Regions from separate parts of the Homo sapiens genome. Here all the other regions are linked to region 1. The links come from fine-mapping of genetic effects on plasma protein levels. A gene starts in region 1. Each other region holds a variant in brackets. All regions are shown on one strand. Distances are between the middles of the regions. Region 1 holds the start of CRISPLD2 (cysteine rich secretory protein LCCL domain containing 2). Region 2 overlaps CRISPLD2 (cysteine rich secretory protein LCCL domain containing 2). Region 3 overlaps LOC105371378 (a long non-coding RNA gene).

The links. PIP is the chance, under the fine-mapping model, that this variant and not a neighbour inherited with it causes the effect. Protein levels are from the aptamer-based SomaScan assay of Sun 2018.
Region 2: its variant is fine-mapped to the plasma level of the CRISPLD2 protein (Sun 2018, PIP 0.95). The variant lies in the coding sequence of CRISPLD2. If it changes the protein, the assay may bind it differently, which can mimic a change of level.
Region 3: its variant is fine-mapped to the plasma level of the CRISPLD2 protein (Sun 2018, PIP 0.95).

What each region holds. Positions count from the first base shown.
Region 1 is chr16:84,817,829-84,822,828 of GRCh38, reverse strand. CRISPLD2 (cysteine rich secretory protein LCCL domain containing 2) reads right to left here and starts at 2,844. Exons shown (of 15, transcript NM_031476.4): 1 at 2,696-2,844. RefSeq lists a silencer at 2,882-3,071.
Region 2 is chr16:84,866,716-84,871,715 of GRCh38, reverse strand. CRISPLD2 (cysteine rich secretory protein LCCL domain containing 2) reads right to left here. Exons shown (of 15, transcript NM_031476.4): 7 at 4,676-4,819; 8 at 2,805-2,865. Among named protein-coding and RNA genes, the nearest start is that of CRISPLD2, 49 kb to the right of the region's middle. The variant T/A (reference allele first, on the strand shown) is at 2,839.
Region 3 is chr16:84,798,865-84,808,044 of GRCh38, reverse strand. LOC105371378 (a long non-coding RNA gene) reads right to left here. Exons shown (of 3, transcript XR_001752293.2): 3 at 7,783-8,033. Among named protein-coding and RNA genes, the nearest start is that of CRISPLD2, 17 kb to the left of the region's middle. RefSeq lists enhancers at 874-1,450, 1,451-2,029, 3,197-3,697 and a silencer at 1,290-1,489. The variant C/T (reference allele first, on the strand shown) is at 2,890.

The DNA.
Region 1 (5,000 bases):
AACATGGCCCATCCTATTAACCACCACCCAGATCTACCTGTCCCTTGCCTGTCCCAGAACTCAGCGTGCTCTATTTAAGACTTTACAACGTGCTTTAGGTCCCTGTCCCTGGAAGGTCTGAGCATCTGTTCCACTCAATGAACTGAAGACGAAGTGAAATATGCCCAGATTGAATTTTCCTTTCCTGACAAGCCGTCAGCCCGTTTGAGTGATCCTGGGTTTGCACATCTGGGACTGATCAAAAACCAGTGCGTTTGCAAAAGAAGAAAAAAGAAAAAGAAAGAAAAAGCCTCCTGAGTCTGGCGCAGGCAGACATGCAGACACCTCCCACACACAGCAAATGACGCTGGTGACAGAGGAAAGAAAAGTTCCAGTTCCCACAGGCCAAAGAGGTCAGTGCCCTGCCTCCAAAAACTTTCTGACCTCCAAAGACGTCAGAGGGTCCTGCCTCCAAAAACTTTCAAATGCAACTTACAAAGGGCCACATACTTAATTTGTGGTCTTTTGAGGGATGAAGTGCAGAGGTTTTAAGAGACCTCGCAGTCTTCTTCCCTAGCTCAGGCCTTCCCAGTCAAACCAACTCTCCTCTCCAGGACAGAGGCAGGACTCAGAACCAGCACTGATTTGGGTCCTGGGACGGGGCTCTCAGTACCTGTCAGCAATGTTGAGCCCAAGCCCAGGGTCAGTTGATCCCCTCCCAGCCTCACCCCAACAGGGACCAGGGACCCAGATCCCTGCCAACGTTAAAAAAACTCCCACATGGCACAGAAAGCCTCAACTAGCAGCAAGCTCTGCTGGGACAGTCATGTGGCTGGTCATTAGATGGGCACCTTCCCCCAGAATCTGGGGCAGGGCCCAGCCTGGACGGCAGCTCTACCCCGCCCTGGCTGTGTCATGTTGGGCACACACCTTAATAATTCTGAGCCTCAACTAACTCCTTGTAAAAAGTGCCCAGCTAATAGAGCAGGCAGTGAGCTCATCCGTGGAAACCCTGGGCATGTCTGGTCTGTACTAAGCATCATGTAAATGTCAGCTGCTTGTATTATTACAAATGGCATTATTACTATTCCTACTCTCACATCTTAAGAAACTCTGAAAAAATCAAAATCACCCTCTTGGTTTCTCCTCCCTGGGTACATTGTCCAGTGGTTTTAACTGGAGCCCCTGTAAGACAAAACATCACCTGTGTGAAGGTCAGGTTCATGGGTGGAGTTGGCAGTGGGCAGGGAAGTGTCTTAAAGAAAGCAGGGTCAAGAGTGCAGATAGGACCCACCTGGGGGTGACAGCATTCCATACCAGCTGGGGGATCTTAGGCAAGCACTTCACCTTGCTGAGCCTCAGTTTCCTCAGCTGTGAAGTGGGCATCAAGAGGCCTACTCCCCGGGGTGTTGCAGCGATGACAATACAGGTAAACTGCGTGGCACAGACCGCGTGCCTGCCGCACAGGCAACACAGTCACACACCCACCCCTTCTCCTGAGTGGGAACAGCCAGATCAGGGGCAGAAGCAGAAAATCAGGTGCATACAACCCAAGGAGCCCTGGGACAGCCGACAGTCACAACTCATGGCCTCAGTCTACTGGAAAGGACCACGCCCCGGTCCTGTTCTGCAGGCTCTCCTCACTGTCAGACATCAGACCCTGGATGGGGAAAGCAGGCTCACCCCATTCTACCAGGGCAAGAGGTCCAAAGGCCCAAAGGGGAAACTCACAACCCCACTCTCGGTTGCAAGGCAAGCTAGGCATTTGCACGGGATGCTTCTCTCAGCCAGGGCAGCAACTCACATTTTGGCTGAGAGACGCCCAATTCAAGTTGGACTGCGATGAGCAGGCATCAGCGAAGTCCTCCCTGGCTTGTCCACCAGCCCAGCCTTAGCAAGGGAGGCTCTGGGTCTGCAGCACATGAGGGACTAGCCCTGGCTCTGTCCACGTGGGACGACCGATCTCCCCCACACTCCAGAGTGAGCCCTCCGCTTCCAGGGTAACTCTCCCCACGCAGGAGTTATGCAGGTGCCCGCTCTGGCTAAAGAAACCCAGAAACGTGTTCCCCCAGACTGCAGAACCCTGACATGGCCCCAAGTCTCTACACATCCATTTGAAGCTCTGGAGACAGACAGAGCTGGGTTCCAGCCCTGGCTCTGCCCGGACAACTTACTTCACCTCTCTGACCCTCAGCATCTTCATCTGAAATGTGGGAAGAAGGCTACCTTGCAAATGAAATCACAGAGGGGCGTGGCCCTCTAAACTGCAGCTGAATGCACATGCCACTAGATCACCCTGGTCCTCCAGACATGAGTAGGACACATTCTAATGCCTGCCATATCCATGCCATCAGCTTTCCAGTTATTGACACCCACTACGAACACAGGAATGCAACAAATGCTAGTGAACTGCACGAGGAAGGCAAGAGAGTAAACAGCCTCTAAGGAGCAGGATTCTGCGCTCAGATCGGCGTTGAATCCTGGGTCCTTGGAGTCCTGGCTGCGAGGTCCTGGACAAATGAGTTGTCCTCGCTGAGCCTCAGTTTCTCCATCTGCAAAAGGGCATGTCGCAAAGCTGTGTTCCGCTATGCAAGCAGAGCACTCGGTGTGGTGCCAGCACACAGTCAGCCCTGCGAGGTGGCATCTGTCCTAGTTATTCCAGCTTCTCGGGGGGGTAACAGTTTGCAAAAGGGAGAAGCATGGAAATCACACTTACCTCCGCAGGGCTCCAATCACCAGCTCGCTGGCGTCTCCCGCGTCCAGCAGACGCGGTAGCAGCGGCGACAGCGCGGGCACAGCAGGCACAGCGGGCACAGCGAGCAGACAGCTCAATAGGAGCAGCCGGAGACGCCCTGGGATGCGAGTGGGTGCCGGGGCTCAGCGTACCGCCTCTTGTAGGCTCCCCGGAGCCCGGAGGCCACGCCCCCAGATCGCTGGCGGCGCTGGTAGGACCGAGCATCACCGGCCCCGCCCCCGGCCCCGCCCCGCAGGCTCAGCGGGCTGAAGGAGGCGGGGGGCAGCTGAGGCGCGGGCGCCGGGTGGGCGAGGAAGGCGGGGCCGCTGGCCTCCAGGGCCGGCTAGGGACAAGGAGACGCTCAGCTCCCTCGCCACTGGCCACACAAGCATAGTTTTCATTGAGCGCTTACTATGCGCCTGGCGCGGTGCCAAGCGCTTCCCACAAGGGGCTTGCAAATTTACCAAACCCCAGCTCTCTGCAGCTCAACTGGAAAATAGGAATAAGGAGGCGACCTCCCAGGATTTTAGCAAATGAAATCCGCAAGGGCTGGGCGCTGTGAACTGTGGCGCGGTGCAGAGTACACAGTTACTGAGGTGACTCCCACCCTCTACACGTGCTCAGAAAACTTAGGCCCCCTCTTCCCAATTTGCAGACGAAGAAAGGGAGACTTGTTTCCGGATGGGGCCGCTAGCGCGGGGATCCAGGCTCCGCACTTTACCTTCAACGACCCTAGGACGCGTTCCCAGGAATCCAGGGAGGTGGAAATCACCTCATTTCACAGATCCAGTAGCTGAGGCTTGGAGAAGAGCGTGCCCCAAGTCCCGTAGCTAGGAGCAGTGCAGCATGTTCATATCTCTTTTGCCCGGAGGCATTTAGCATTTTTAACCTGTGCAGGTACATACGGAAATCAATTTAGAGCCAGACGAAATCACCTTTGAAACAGGTAAATCCACGTTCCTTAAGAGCTAAGGGACTGCCCCGTGCTCCCGCCTCAGTCACAAAATGTGGACGGGTATGCAGGCACTGCGCGGTAAGGTGCTGGGGCCCAAGGGCAGGAGGGGGCCTGTCCGCACTGCTCATCTCCGCACCAAGACACCGGAATTAGCTCCTCCAGCATTAACTCATTCCCCAAATACCCATCGAGTCGCTCTGTGCCGGGCCCTGTGCTATACAGCAGGCACAAACAAGACACCTCCGGGATCTCAGAGTCTGGGGCCCCCACGAGCTAGGGCACGTGGGAGAAACAAGGATGGGGAATGGGTGGAACAAGGACTATGGAAGGCTGCCTGCGTGACGTGGACTCAAACAGGGAAGGCTTGCCTAAGATTTTGGTGCGGCTCAAATGCAGATACAGAATAATGCAGACTGGCCGGGCGCGGTGGCTCACACCTGTAATCCCAGCACTGTGGGAGTTTGAGGCGGGCGGATCACCTGAGATCAGGAGTTCGAAACCATCCCGGCCAACATGGTGACACTGTCTCTACTAAAAATACAAAAATTAGCCGGGCATGGTGGTGCATGCCTGTAGTCCCAGCTACTTGGGAGGCTGAGGCAGGAGAATCGCTCGAACCTGAGAGGCAGAGGTTGCAGTGAGCTGAGATGGCGCCATTGCACTCTAGCCTAGGAGACAAGAACAAAACTCCATCTCAAAAAGATAATAATAATGCAGATGTTTTCTGTTATCTTTTTTTCCTCTTTTTGTTTTACTTTTCTCAGTCTTTGAAGCATCATTCTTCAGAGGCACTCAACTGGCATGCAGTCATCCAATAATTAAGCACCTACTATGTGCTGGGCTCTGTTTCAAGCACTGGAGGGCTCAGTAGTGAATAAGACTGTTCCAGAACAACAGTCCTTGGATTGACAAAAGACAAATCCAAGGGGAGAAGAGATCTGTGTTAGCAGATGCCTTTGGAGGCCTGGCACGATGGCTCAGGCCTGTAATCCCAGCACTTTGGGAGGCCCAGGCAGGTGGCTTGAGTTCAGGACCAGCCTGCAACATGATGAAATCCAGTTGCTACAAAAAGTAGCCAGCATGGTGGCATATGCCTGTGGTTCCAGCCACTCAGGAGGCTGAGGTGGGAGGATTGCCTGAGCCTGGGAGGTGGAGGTTGCAGTGAGCTGAAATCGAGCCACTGCATCCCAGCCTGGGTGACAGAGCAAGACCCTATTTCAAAACAAAACCAACCAACCAAACAAACAAACAACAACAAAACAGATGCCTCTGAGTACCTGACCCCAAAGCATTATACTGCCAAATCCTGCCACCCCCAACAACCCTCCAGGC
Region 2 (5,000 bases), 49 kb before region 1:
GCCGCGTGTGGTGGCAGGCACCTGTAGTCCCAGCTACTTGGGAGGCTGAGGCAGGAAAGTCACTTGAACCCTGGAGGCAGAGGTTACAGTGAGCAAAGATCGTGCCACTGCACTCCAGCCTGGGCAACAGAGCAAGACTCAGTCTCAACAAACCAACAAACAAACAAACAAAACCCCAAGAAAGAGTCTGACTCCATCACGCAGGCTGGAGTGCAGCAGCGCAATCACAGCTCACTGTAGCCTCAACTTCCTGGGCTCAGGTGATCCTCCCACCTCAGTCTCCCAAGTAGCTGGGACTACAGGTGTGCACAACCACACCCAACTAATTTTGGGGGTTTTGCCATGTTGCCCAGGCTGGTTTCGAACTCCTGGGCTCAAGCAATCCACCCACCTTGACCTCCCAAGGTGCTGAGGTTACAGGCACAAGCCACCATGCCTGGCCTGCAAGGATTTTTTAATAGGGTAAAACTCAATGATGGTGTTGCTGTTCATGGAAGTGTAAATCACTCTAATGTTTAAGAAAATCTTTAAGAAAGACTTAAACATTCATATCCATTAGCTCTTCAGCTTCCCTTGTAAATATATATTCCAAGCAAAAAGTCAAGAAAGCCAGACCTGCAAGCATATCCCAACTATTTATTTATCATTTTTTAATTTTTGAGACAGAGTCTCATTCTGTCACCCAGGCCAGAGTGCACCAGTACACCTCGGCTCATTGCAGCCTCCACCTCCCAGGTTCAAGCGATTCTTGTGCCTCAGCCTCCCGAGTAGCTGGGACTATAGGCATATGCCACCATGTCCAGCTAATTTTTGTATTTCTAGTAGAGACAGGGTTTCGCCAGTTGCCCAGGCTGGTCTCAAACTCTTGGCCTTAAGTGATCCACCCGCCTCGGCCTCCCAAAGTGCTGGGATTACAGGCTTGAGCCACCGTACCTGGCCGCAACTGTTTATAATGGTGAAAAGCTGGAAATAAGCCAGCAGGTGGCAAAGCAATGGCTAAACACATTCATGTACAGTCGTGTGTCAGAGTATCAGGCAGTCACTAAGCATGAAGTGCGTGAAGAATATTTGGAAAATACTAAGTGAAAATACATAAGCAGCCTAGGCGCAGTGGCTCACGCCTGTAATCCCAACACTTTGGGAGGCCAAGGCGGGCAGATCACTTGAGGTCAGGAGTTTGAGACCAGCCTGGCCTGGTGAAACCCCATCTCTACCAAAAATACAAAATATGAGCCGGGCATGGTGGCGTGTGCCTGTAGTTCCAGCTACGCGGGAGGCTGAGGTGGGAGAATCACTTAAACCCGGGAAGCAGAGGTGGCAGTGAGCCGAGATCATGCTGCTGCACTTCAGCCTGGGTGACAGAGCAAGACTCCAACTCAAAGAAAAAAAAAAAACAAAATACATGGGCAGCATTAGCCTCATCTGTACACAGAAAAAAAGACTGGAAGGAAATACATCAAATTGCTGCTGGTATTGATGAGATTTTGGAACACATTTTTTTCTTTCTACTTTTTTGTTGTTGTTATTGCTTTCCTGAATAATTATTAATGAGCATAGATGCCTTTTCAAGTCAGAAAAAAAACCCACTGACTACTATTTTTGTAAAAGCACCATGAACAGAAAACAGGTGTGCCAGACTGTGGGCCGGCTTCTACAGAGAGAATGAGGATGCTCCCACAGTGGCACACTGGGGCTGAGTAACTTTTCTTGACTGGAGGCCTTTAAGAGCCTTTGTGTGGACAGATTCTTGCCTTCTCCCTGCATGGGGAGTGCCCCACCCACCCCAACTCTGGAACTGCCTCGATGTTGTCTGACAAGGAATGTTCTCCAATACGTGCTCACCTTTTTCCACTGAGTACTACTCAGGGGTGATGCTATCGCAATGTGCTTAGCATTCAGAAAGATGCGTTGCCACAAAAGGACAACTCCGGCTTCTCAGCAGCCCAGACGGGGCAGTGCACACGGCGGAGGCCCCTGCCAGGCGCTGCCTGCTTTTTCCCAATTCGCCCAGCACAGAGACATGCAAATGCTACCCTAACACTGAGCGCGAGGTTTTAGGCACTGTTATTCCACTGCTGACTGTTGACACATGAGGCTCATCTCACCAACAAACGACAGTACCACATGTGAGCCCACTGAGCCGCCTCATCCCGGCTGCTCCAAGTCCATCTCATCACAGTCCTGCCAACGTCTAAGTGAAGTGTTCTCCTGGCAAACTGAATTCCAAACCCTTGCGATATAAAACCGAAGATTCAACCTTCCCTTTTTAACATGTGCTTTAAATAACTCGATTCAGCTTTCGGCAAACTGATGCCAGAATTCGTAGGAAGACGAGCAAGGTCCCCTCTCCCAATGACATGGTTTTCCCATTTGACTCTGAGGGTGTGCGTGCGGCGGCTGCACCTGTTGGCTGTTTACTACCACAAAGAACAGCCCAGCAGTCACACTGCCAAAACCAAATGCGTTCTTTTTGGCAGACAGCGTTCATCATCTGAATGACTGCAACAACTAGATGGATTTATTCATCTACCATGGGGGGAATATACCGGTGGCCCATCTGTCTGGTGGGGCCCACTGGGAGCAGCCTGCTCAGATCCTGCAGCATTCCCATAGGATCTGCCAACGGCCGAGGCGAACACATGCCCAGACACTGCCCAGCCCTAACCCCTGTTCTGCCTGCTGAGAGCAGCTTGCTAAATATGCAACAGCAGGACAGCCCAGCATAGGCCCAGAGGCCACAGTGGTAGGACAGCCCAGCACAGACTCAGAGGCTACAGTGGCAGGACAGCCCAGCACAGGCTCACCTGTTACACGTGGACCCTTTGCACCTGTCCTTCA[T/A]CTTGGTGTCACATCTGACGACTTGGGCTAGGAGAGAAATGCGGGAATACATGTCACGGCACGAAACCAGGAGGGTGAGAAGACCCTTCCCCATGCTGAGGGACATTCTGGAACATTCTGCAATCCAATCCGTGCTATACTAAGAGCAAGGGCAATGCCTGATGGTTGCAGGCTTCCGCTGGGGGCTCAGACCCCAGGCCCACCGCTTTACAGTAGCAGTGTGACCTTGAACAATTTGCTTCCCCTCTCTGAGGTTCAATTTCCGCATATGGACAATGCGGACAGTGACAGTACCCACCTCCAAGGGCTTTTGTGAACCTTGAGAGAGAAAGTGAACTCTGGCCTTGGCAGGGTGCCTGGCACACACGATGTGCCTGTGGTCCCACAGGGCTCTGCAGGGCAGGACTCCTGAGAGGGTAGGGAGGATGCTGCTCCGAGCCTGTGGGGCCGGAGACCCAGCCAGGCTCACCCGAGTCATCTCCCCCATCGCCAAGATGCCTTTTGCAAAGCTTTTTGCTTTGTTTATTTTATGGGAACATATCAGAGTCTCGGAGTCGTGTTATAGTTTGAAAAGGGACATAAACGTTGTATGTTATTAAAAGAAACAATGGCACCGTTTTGAACTCCTGGACAGACAAGGGCCTCCGCAGGTTTCCTGGTCAAAGCAAGCTACAGAATGCTTCGGCATCACAGGGAAAGAGGTTTGAAGAGGACAGAAAGACTGGTGGGGGCAGGGGAGATGGTAGTTATGAAAAGAAGAGAGGGGCTCTGAGAAGGCGGGTGTGAGGCTGTTCCTCAAAGAGGGGTCCAGTTTTAGGGCCTTTGAGGCTTGCGGGGCAAACGGGGAGAGCCAAGGGCATCCAGCCCAGCCCTCCAGCCCCGCCTGAGCAAAAACGCCCCTCCACAGCCCCCGGCCTGCAGAAACGGCGGCTGCAAATGAGTTCCCGCAGCAGTGGCTGGGGGGAGCTGAAGGGGAGCTGAACTCCACCCTGGGGCGGTGAAGGCAGACAGAACAAAAGCTTGGGGAGCTGAGGTGCCCAGGGAGCCAAAAGGCCAAAGGTGAGCAGGGGAAGAGTCAATATTTTGGGGATTCCTGGAAGTCCCAGGGGGAAACATCTCCCTTTCTCTACTAAAAATACAAAAATTAGCTGGGCATAGTGGTGGGCACCTGTAGTCCCAGCTACTCAGGGGGCTGAGGCAGGAGAATTGCTTGAACCCGGAAGGCAAAGGTTGCAGTGAGCCGAGATCATGCCACTGGACTCCAACCTGGGTGACAAGAGCGAAACTCCATCTCAAAAAAGAGTTGTAGGCAACTCTGCAATGATCTCAATGTACAGGGAGACCTCAGCTGGCACTGGGTGACCCGTGTTGCTGCAGCTCATCCTCCGGGCAACCTTGATGTGGCATCTCTATCCCCTACTTCATGGATGCGCCAACTGAGTCCAGACCCAGGACCTGGTGAGAAAGGAGTGGAACCTTCCAGAGCCAGGCTGGACGCTGCCTGCCCTCTGCAGGGCCAGCGCTTCCCAGAGGAACCCAACTTCAGCCCAGGTCCCTTTTGAAAGGACAAGGGAAGGTCTAACCTTAAAATACCTGCCTGGGTGTGGGGAAAATGCCACCCAAGCACAAGTCCTATAATGCTCGCTTTTGAAATGACTTAAAAATATCGTTTTTGAAAAACGTCTTATGGTTGTGCCTCCATGAGCTTCGCCGCACCCTGTTTGCCACTGCCTGTGGATTTGCAGACCTAAATCCACTAGCTCCCCTCCTCCACCCACCCCGTCCCCTTTGGAGGTGGCTGGGAGGGCAGGAGGGGCGGAGGACGGCCTAGACTCACTCATGTAGTTGACCGCAGAGGTTTTCTTGGGCTTGGTGGGTCTCATCACCCTCGGTTGGAGCCAAACATGGTTTTCTTCAGGAATGGGAGCCGTTTCCACCTCATTCATCTCGTCCGTTTCAGGTTTTGGAGTGTAGGTTTCTTCTTAACATTGGAGAGGGAGGAAAAAAAATAACACACTGGGATTCAACAAAAACGCACTTTGGGGAAAAAAAAGCAATTTGAAAACTAAACGTGTTTGAGGTTTGGTTTTACAAAGAATCATTTCAGCGGCAAAGAGAAAGTTACATTTCAGAACAGACCTGGCCAGGTGGAATTCTACCAG
Region 3 (9,180 bases), 17 kb after region 1:
CCGCCTGGCAGCAGAGGCCACCTTCACATGTGACAGTCTCAACTTACGCACCTTATCCACATGGGCTTGAGCACCTGCCCTGTGACAGGCCCCGTTCTGCAGAGCCACGCCACTCTGACACCCTTCCAGGTGCCCTCTCCACTCTCCAGCTCTTCCTTGACAGGGGGCTTGGCCCATTTCTCCGCCCTGCTAAGGGTCTGTGGAGGGCTGAATAATGGCACCCCGTCTAGGCCTGTTCCTGACTCCTGGAGCTTGCAAATGTGCCCTTACACGATGCATTTGCTCCTAGGGCGGCTGTAACTAAGTACCAGAAACAGGGGGCTTCAAACAACGCAAACGCATTTTCCCACAGTCCTGGAGGCCAGGAGTCCAAGATCAAGGTGTCGAAGGGGCCATGCTCTTCCCGAAGGGCCTAGGGAGGATCCATCTGCACATGTCTCAGCTTCTGGTGGCCGGCAATGCCTGATGTCCCGTCTGTGGCCATTCCAATCTCCGACTTCCTCTTCACATGGCCACCTTCCCGGTGCATCTGTGTCCAAACTTTCCTCTTCTTATGAAGACATCAGGCACTAGATTAGGGCCCATCCTAGTTGAGTGTGACATCATCTTAATGTGATTACATCTGCAGAGACCCTAGTTCCATATAAGGTCCCATTCTGAGGTCCCAGGTGGACATGGATTTTTGGGAAACGCGATTGGACCCAGCATTCATTGTAACGGGGCCTCTGCAGACGTGATTCTGCTAAGGGTGGTGACATGGGAAGAGCGGCCTGAATTCTCCTGTGGCCCCCACGGAATCACAAGCCTCCCTTGTAAGAGGGAGGCCAGAGGGTCAGCGTCAGAAGAGAAGGTGCTGTGATGATGGAAGCCGAGGTTGGAGTGATGCACTCTGAGGATGGACGAAGGGGCCATGAGCCCAGGAGTACAGGCAGCCTCTAGAAGCTGGAAAAGTCAAGGAGACGATTCTCCCCTGGAGGTTCCAGGAGCAACCAGCCCCGCCCACACCTTGACTTTAGCCCAGTGATGCCGATCTCAGACTTCTGACCTCCAGAACCGTAAGATGGGATACTTAAGCTGTTTCCAGCCGCCAACCTTGTGGTCACTTGTTACCGCAGCCATGGGAAACCAGATGCATCCATGAAGAGCTGTGTCTGTGACACGGCGTCGGCAGGGCTGCAGAACCGGGCTCCTGCGCCGCCCTTCCAGGGGAAACAGCCATGAATGAGCCCTCAGGCAGCCAACTGTTTCCCTGCAGAGCACCCGGGCCCGGCAGGCAGCCGGCTCCCAGACCACACACACTCCGCACAGTCCTGAGTCATCTGGCCTGAAGGTGCTTCCCTAGAGCCTCTTTACCGGAAATGGCCTGCGTTCGACCTGATTATTTTTCTAGCAATCGATGAACACTTCCCAGATGCAAAATTGGATAGCGGCCAGTTCCAGGCTGTGCATGGCCCAGGACGACCAATGCAAGAGCCTCCGGGGGGTTCTCTAGCCCGAGTGGTGTCACTGCATTCCCACTGTCCCCGAGCACCCACGGCATCACCGCCACCATCAGGGGAGCCTGAAGTGCCTGCAGAAGCTCTGGCCAGGCCCAGGGGGTGGACAGGAAGTCCAGTCATCCTCGGCATCCTGTGAACCGCTGCTTCTTGCATTTTTAATCTCGGCGGGTCCCACTTGCGTGTCTGAAAATGCAACTGCCTTATTTTCCCTAACAGGGCAGTTGAGGGGTGGGGTAGTACTTAACCTTGACAACAGGACATCTCTTGGTTTCTTTTTTTTTTTTTCTGAGTCGGAGCCTCACTCTGTCACCCAGACTGGAGTGCAGTGGTGCAATCTCAGCTCACTGCAACCTCCGCCTTCGGGGCTCAAGTGATTCTCCTGCCTCAGCCTCCCCAGTATTTGGGATTACAGGCATGTGCCACCATGCCCGGCTAATTTTTGTATTTTTAGTAGAGACGGGGTTTTATCATGTTGGCCAGACTGGTTTCAAACCCCTGATGTCAAGCGATCTGCCTGCCTCAGACTCCCGAAGTACTGGGATTACAGGCTTGTACCACCATGCCTGGCTAATTTTTGTATTTTTAGTAGAGATGGGGTTTCACCGTGTTGGCCAGGCTGGTTTCAAACTCCTGACCTCAAGTGATCCGCCTGCCTCTGCCTCCCAAAGTGCTGCTTACAGGTGTGAGCCACCATGCTCAGCCTCAGTCTCTCTATATCATCTCTGTTAATTTGCAGTGGTCTCTGCAGCAACTAGCCCACCCATGTGCACTCAGAGCCACTCAGGGCCCTCGCTCTTTCCCTCCTTCCTCTCCTCTCCCCCTAGATGAGTGGGAAGGAAGTTTAGGGACTTCACGGTTTTGCAGAGAGGCAAAGACGGAGCCCACCCACCGATCTTTTTACATGACAGGAGCCGTGATTAATTTCCCGGGGATGTCCTAATAAACTGCTGCAAACTGGGTGGCTAGCAATAGAGATGTGTTCTCTCCCGGTTCCGGAGGCCAGCGGTCTGAAATCAAAGCGTCTGCAGAGTGGAGAGAGGGAAGATCCTTCCTGCCTCTTCCAGCTTCCAGGGGCCCCAGGTGTTCCTTGGCTTGTGGCCGCATCACTCCCATCGCTGCCTCTGTCCTCGCGTAGCCTTCTTCTCTTCTTATACGGACATTCATGGTTGCACTTAGGGCACACATGGTCATCCAGGATGGCCTCATCTCAAGACCTTCTATTGATTACAGCAAAGATACTTTTTCTTTCTTTTTTTTTTTTTTTTTTTGAGACAGAGTCTCACTCTGTTGCCCAGGCTGGAGTGCGGTGGCCTGATCTCGGCTCACTGCAACCTCCGCCTCCCAGGTTCAAGTGATTCTCCTGCCTCAGCCTCCCGAATAGCTGGGACTA[C/T]GGGCGTGCGCCACCACGCCCAGCTAATTTTTGTATTTTTAGTAGAGGCGGGGTTTCACCATGTTGGCCAGGATGATCTCAATCTCTTGACCTTGTGGTCCACTCACTTCGGCCTCCCAAAGGGCTGGGATTACAGGCGTGAGCCATCGCAGCCAGCCTATTTATTTATTTATTTATTTATTTTAGATGTGGTCTCGCTCCATCACCCAGGTTGGAGTGCGGTGGTGTGATCTCGGGTCACTGCAACCTCCGCCTCCTGGGTTCAAGCGATTCTCGTGCCTCAGCCTCCCGAGTAGCTGGGATTACAAATGTGCACCACCAAGTCCGGCTAACTTTTGTATTTTTAGTAGAGGTGGGGTTTCACCATGTTGGCCAGGCTGATCTCGAACTCCTGACCTCAGATGATTCACCTGTGTCGGCCTCTCAAAGTGCTGGGATTACAGGCATGAACCACCGTGCCCAGCCAGATTCTTTTTCCAAATAAGGTCACATTCACGGGTTCTGGGCATCAGGGCTTGGATATATCATTCTGGGGGCCACCAGTTAACCCACTCCAGCAAGCTTGGACATACCGGGCCACATCGGCCTACAGGGCTTGGGGAGTCACCCAGGCTGGGGCTGCTCCACTGTGCACGAGGGCTGTCCTCCACCTTGCACTGGAGGGAGCTGCCTCGTAACACGTTCGCTCTCAGCCTCCTCCTTAATCTGCCTCCTCCCTTGACTCCAGGGTCCCGACCAGGGGCAGAAGCTCTTTTTCACCTGTCCGCTCACCTTGCTGGAGCTGGGAGGGAGGATTTTCCACCTTCTTATGTTTGGGGTGTTCCTTCCATGAGGCACTGGGTTTTCCATCCCCTCTGGCTGATAATAAGTTTGAAGTTCAATAGGCCTGACCTTTTTTTTTCTTTTAAATTTCTCACTGACTTTGTTGTTTTTTTGTTTTTGTTTTTCTTTTTGTTTTTGTTTTGAGACGGAGTCTCGCTCTGTCACCCAGGCTGGAGTGCAGTGGTGCAATCTTGGCTCACTGCAAGCTCCGCCTCCTGGGTCCACGCCATTCTCCTGCCTCAGCCTCCGGAGTAGCTGGGACTACAGGCGCCCGCCACCATGCCCGGCTAATTTTTTTGTATTTTTAGTAGAGACAGGGTTTCACCGTGTTAGCCAGGATGGTCTCGATCTACTGACCTCATGATCCGCCTGCTTCGGCCTCCCAAAGTGCTGGGATTACAGGCGTGAGCCACCGCGCCTGGCCCTTTTTTCACTGACTTTGTAAAACAATCGTTTTTTTAAAAAAAACTTTTAATTTCCAGGGTACATGTGCAGGATGTGCAGGTTTGTTACTTAGGTAAACGTGTGTCACGAGGGTTTGTTGTACAGACTATTTCGTCACTCAGGTATTAAGCCCAGTATCCATGAGTTCTTCTTCCTGATCCCCTCCCCGCTCCCACCCTCCACCCTCCGACAGGCCCCAGTGGGTGGTGTTCCCTTCTATGCGTCCATGTCTTCTCATCGTTTAACTCCCACTTATCAGTGAGAACGTGCGGTATTTGGTTTTCGGTTCCTGCGTGAGTTTGCCAAGGACCACGGGCCTGACTCTTGATGCAAAAGGGGTGCAAAGGATGTGGGCAACCCCGTTCCCCTCTTCATTCCTTCCCAGGGCTCTGGTCTCACTGAGAACTCTAAAAGCTAAACAAGTTGCTTTCCTGCTGAGGTTCTGCTAAGCTTTCCTAGTCCCCCGAGGCAGGTAGGGGCTCCAGCTGAGGAGGAAAAAGGTCGGCTAGCCAGAAATTCAAATGACGGAAAGACATCCCTGTGTTCTAAGAAATAGGATCCCCTGACGTCCACCGACCTGGGCAATGTCACCAATAGGAGGCCTCAGAAGCACTTTTAACATCAACCTTACAGGGGGTGGGGTTTATACACAAGCACGTGTACCCATTTAAGTGGACAGCTGGATGAGGAACAGATGTCTATACCCGCCCAACTACCACCATGATACAGAATGTTCCCATCACGCCCATCTGCGTCCCACCTCCCCCAGCAACCATGGATCTGCTTTCTGTTGCTTTGCTGTAGACTTGCTTGCCTGTTCAAGAATATTCTGTAACTGGAAGCATACGGCATGGTCGAGGACTCCTTTTTTTTTTTTTTTTTTTTGAGATAGGGTCTCGCCCTGTTACCCAGGCTGGAGTGCAGTGGCGTGATCTCAGCTCACTGCAACTTCCGCCTCCCAGATTCAAGCGATTCTCCTGCCCCAGCCTCCTGAGTAGCTGGGACTACAGGCAAGTGCCACCACGCCCGGCTCATTTTTGTATTTTTAGTAGAGATGGGGTTTCACCATGTTGGTCAGGCTGGTCTCGAACTCCTGACCTCGTGAACCACCCACCTCGGCCTCCCAAAGTGCTGGAATTACAGGCACGAGCCACCACGCCCAGCCAGTCGAGGATTCTTGACTCCTCTCTTCCCTTCCTGCTCCCCTGAAACTCGTCCCACACCTGGTCCACTTGACGCAGGTAGAAGCCACATCAGTCCCTCCTTTCTCCTGCAGCCCATCCGCCATTTTGGTTGGGGGCTCTGGACTCACCCTATGGGGAGGCGCTGTGGCCCAGTGGCCAGCTGCCCACCTCCTGGGTTTGGATCCTAGCCCACCATTTCCTCACTTGAGACGCTGGGCATGTTCCTCAGGCTCTCCAGGGCTCAGCTTTCCTCATCTGGGGAATGGGGCTGAGAACATCAACCTCCGTGCTTCAGGAGCAAACAACAACACTAAAAGTTCTGGCTGGGTGCGGTGGCTCACACCTATAATCCCAGCACTTTGGGAGTCCGAGGCAGGCAGATCATCTGAGGTCAGGAGTTCGAGACCAGCCTGGCCAACATGGTGAAACTCCGTCTCTACTAAAAATACAAAAATTAGCCAGGCGTGGTGGCGCATGCCTGTAATCCCAGCTACTGGGGAGGCTGAGGCAGAAGAATTGCTTGAGCCCCGAAGGCAGAGGTTGCAGTGAGCTGAGATCGCACCACTGCACTCCAGCCTGGGTGACAGAATGAGACTCTGTCTCAAAAAAAAAGAAAAAAGTTAGCATTCCCTGAGGGTGAGCACAGTGAGCTCCCAGCTGGTCAAGCCTGGCCAATGAGGAAAGATTTTTAAATGAATGCAAATATATTTCTTTTTATGCTAAAATTAAAATTAATAATGCCTATTTCTTTTTTTTTTGAGAGGGAGTCTCGCTCTGTCGCCCAGGCTGGAGTGCAGTGGCTCGATCTCGGCTCACTGCAAGCTCCACCTCCCGGGTTCATGCTATTCTCCTGCCTCAGCCTCCCAAGTAGCTGGGACTACAGGCGCCCGTCACCACGCCCGGCTAATTTTTTGTATTTTTTTAGTAGAGACGGGGTTTTACCATGTTAGCCAGGATGGTCTCGATCTCCTGACCTAGTGATCTGCCCACCTCGGCCTCCCAAAGTGCTGGGATTACAGGCGTGAACCACCGCGCCCAGCCAATAATGCCTATTTCACTCGGTTGCTGTGAGGTTCAAATTAGGCATGTAAAATGCCTGGCTGTTTCTTTCTTTTTTTTTTTTTTTAAAGAAAAACCTACACATGTTAATTATTTTAATTGTTCCTCTTCTCTGGTCTCCACTTTGCAGCCAGAATCATTACCTGAAAACCCAAGCCTGACCAGACACTTCCCTGCCCATTAATGACCTTAGTTATCTTCATTACTGGCAACTTTCTGGGTTCATCTCTCTCTACTGCACCCAGCTCCCTGCCCCATACCCTCCCCACCCACCTGCAAGCACATGCACCCCTCTACACATCAGTAGCACTAAGCTTTTTCCTTCTCTCTGAGCCCACAGGGGCCTTTTGTGCCACTGGACCTTTGCACATGCTCTCTCTCCACCTGGGAAACCCCACCTTTCAAGACCCAGCACCGACATCACCTCCTCTGTGAAGGCATGTGGTTGGCAAGGTAGGCAGTTGCTTCTATCTTTTGTCTTCCTTAGCAACATCTTGCTGTCATGCAAATTGCTTTGCTCACCTGTTAAAATAAATGAGGTGAATTGAATTATCGGTTCTGGTTCTCCACTCTGCTGTCTGTTCTACAGCCCAATGGCCTTGGGGTCTACCATGGCCTCGTGGTGGGCAAAGAGTACTTTCCACCTCTTGACTTTGAGCTTAGCCATGTGACTTGCTTTGATTGATGGGCTTCCGCCATGGCCACAAGGAGAAAATGCCCCAGGCAATCCACGGGTCACAGAACAAAGTGTCCAGTAGAATTGGATCCATCCTGTAGCTTGAGCCCAGCATAGATCAGGTGACCCCACCCCACCCCATTTTCCCAGATGATTTGCAGACAGAGAGCAAGAATAAAGCCACAGAGTTACAGGTGGTTTGTTACTCAGCATCACCGTGGCAATAGGTAACTGTGACAATTGTTCCATCTCCTCTTTTACTTCGAGCATCTATAAGCTGGAGACCACGTCTCACTCCCTGGGTATCCCCAGTACCAGCATAAGGCTGATATTTGAAGGGGAAGGAAATTTCAGAGGGCCCTGTGAAATACTGATTGTTAACTTCAGCCAGCAGGGAAAGAGACAGAAACAGGAAATCCAAGCACTGGCAGGCCCTCCCAAAGATAGCTTAGGGGCCAAGATCATAGGCCTGGTAATTGGACAGCACAGGTTGGAATTCCAGCAACTTCCTTCAGTTCACTGAGATGCCACTTCATCAGCCATGGAGGGGAGCTAAGAATCTTGTCAGTCTCACAGTGTTGTTGGGAGGATTAAATGATTGAATGTAGGCAAATCCCTGCATATAGTGTTTGGCACGTTGCCAGTTCCTCGAAGACACTCCATCAAATTGATATTGGAGAGACATGCAAAGTAACCCAAGAACTGTACTTAGCAATGACAAGAACTGGAGAGCATTTATTCATGAAAAGTATCCTCTGGCAAGGGAAGTTTTCGAGCAGAATACACAACTTTAGAGAGAGGGCTTAGCAGGAGCATAAGGAAGGCGAACACACCGTTCCTGACAGAATACTCACCTTCAGGACCTTCCACGACCTTCCATGACCTCATGTCTCCTAAATTTCCAGGATTATCAAGTTTGCTCTTCTGATGATTCAAATCATAGAAACTATAATTGTGAGCTTAGGAAAAAAAAAATACTTAACTTCTGGTCTAGGTTTTATTCTGTTTCCTAATGATAACTGAAGGTAAGTCCAAACATGCAATTTTTTTCCAAACATGCATTTTTCAATTGATCTTTTCCTTAATGAGTCATCTCATGATTGGCCTCATTATTTTAGAAAAATCATCTATTTTATGTATATCCCTAATGAAACTTCAACTTTTTACATATCTGCAAGCAAATAATATAGATAAATTGGAATCAGACAGGCAATGCAACTAATCTAAAAGAAGACAAGAAAATGGGGAGAAAGTAACAAAGAAGAGATAAGACAAATTGAAAATCAAATAGCATGATAGCAGGTTTTAACCCAACTATATTGATTTATGTTAAATGTAAATGTTCTAAACATTCCAACATAATGTAAGGTTGTCAGATTGTATGAAAAAGCAAGGCCCAACGGTATGCTGTCTACAAGAAACCAACTTTAACTACAAAGACATAAATAGGTTAAAAGTAAAGAGATGGAAAAATGTATACCATGCAACATGCTTATACTCACCAAATGAAAGCTGGAGTGGTGATATTAATATTAGACAAAGGAATATTTCCAGGGATAAAGATGGGTTTGTCATAATTACAAAAAGGCCAACTCATCAAGGATATAGAAAATTCCTAAATGTATACATGCCAAATAATACAGCTTTTTTTTTTTTTTGATACGGAGTCTTGCTCTGTCGCCCAGGCTGGAGTGCAGTGGTGCAATCTTGGCTCACTGCAAGCTCCACCTCCCGGGTTCGCACCATTCTCCTGCCTCAGCCTCCCAAGCAGCTGTGACTACAGGCGCCCGCCACCACGCCTGGCTAATTTTTTGTATTTTTAGTAGAGACGGAGTTTCACCCTGTTAGCTAGGATGGTCTCGATCTCCTGACCTTGTGATCCGCCCGCCTCGTGCCTGGCCAGCATTCTATATTATTGATCTATTTATCGACCTCAATACAAGTACCATGCGGTGTTGCTAAGTTTTATAACAATTTTGAAGGGGACTGTAAATCTTCTAACTTCGGTCATGCTTTAAAGTTGTTTCGACTGTGTTTTATTTTTTCATATTTCCATAGGTATTTTAGAATCCACTTAATTTCTACCAGAAAAAAAAAAAAAGCTGC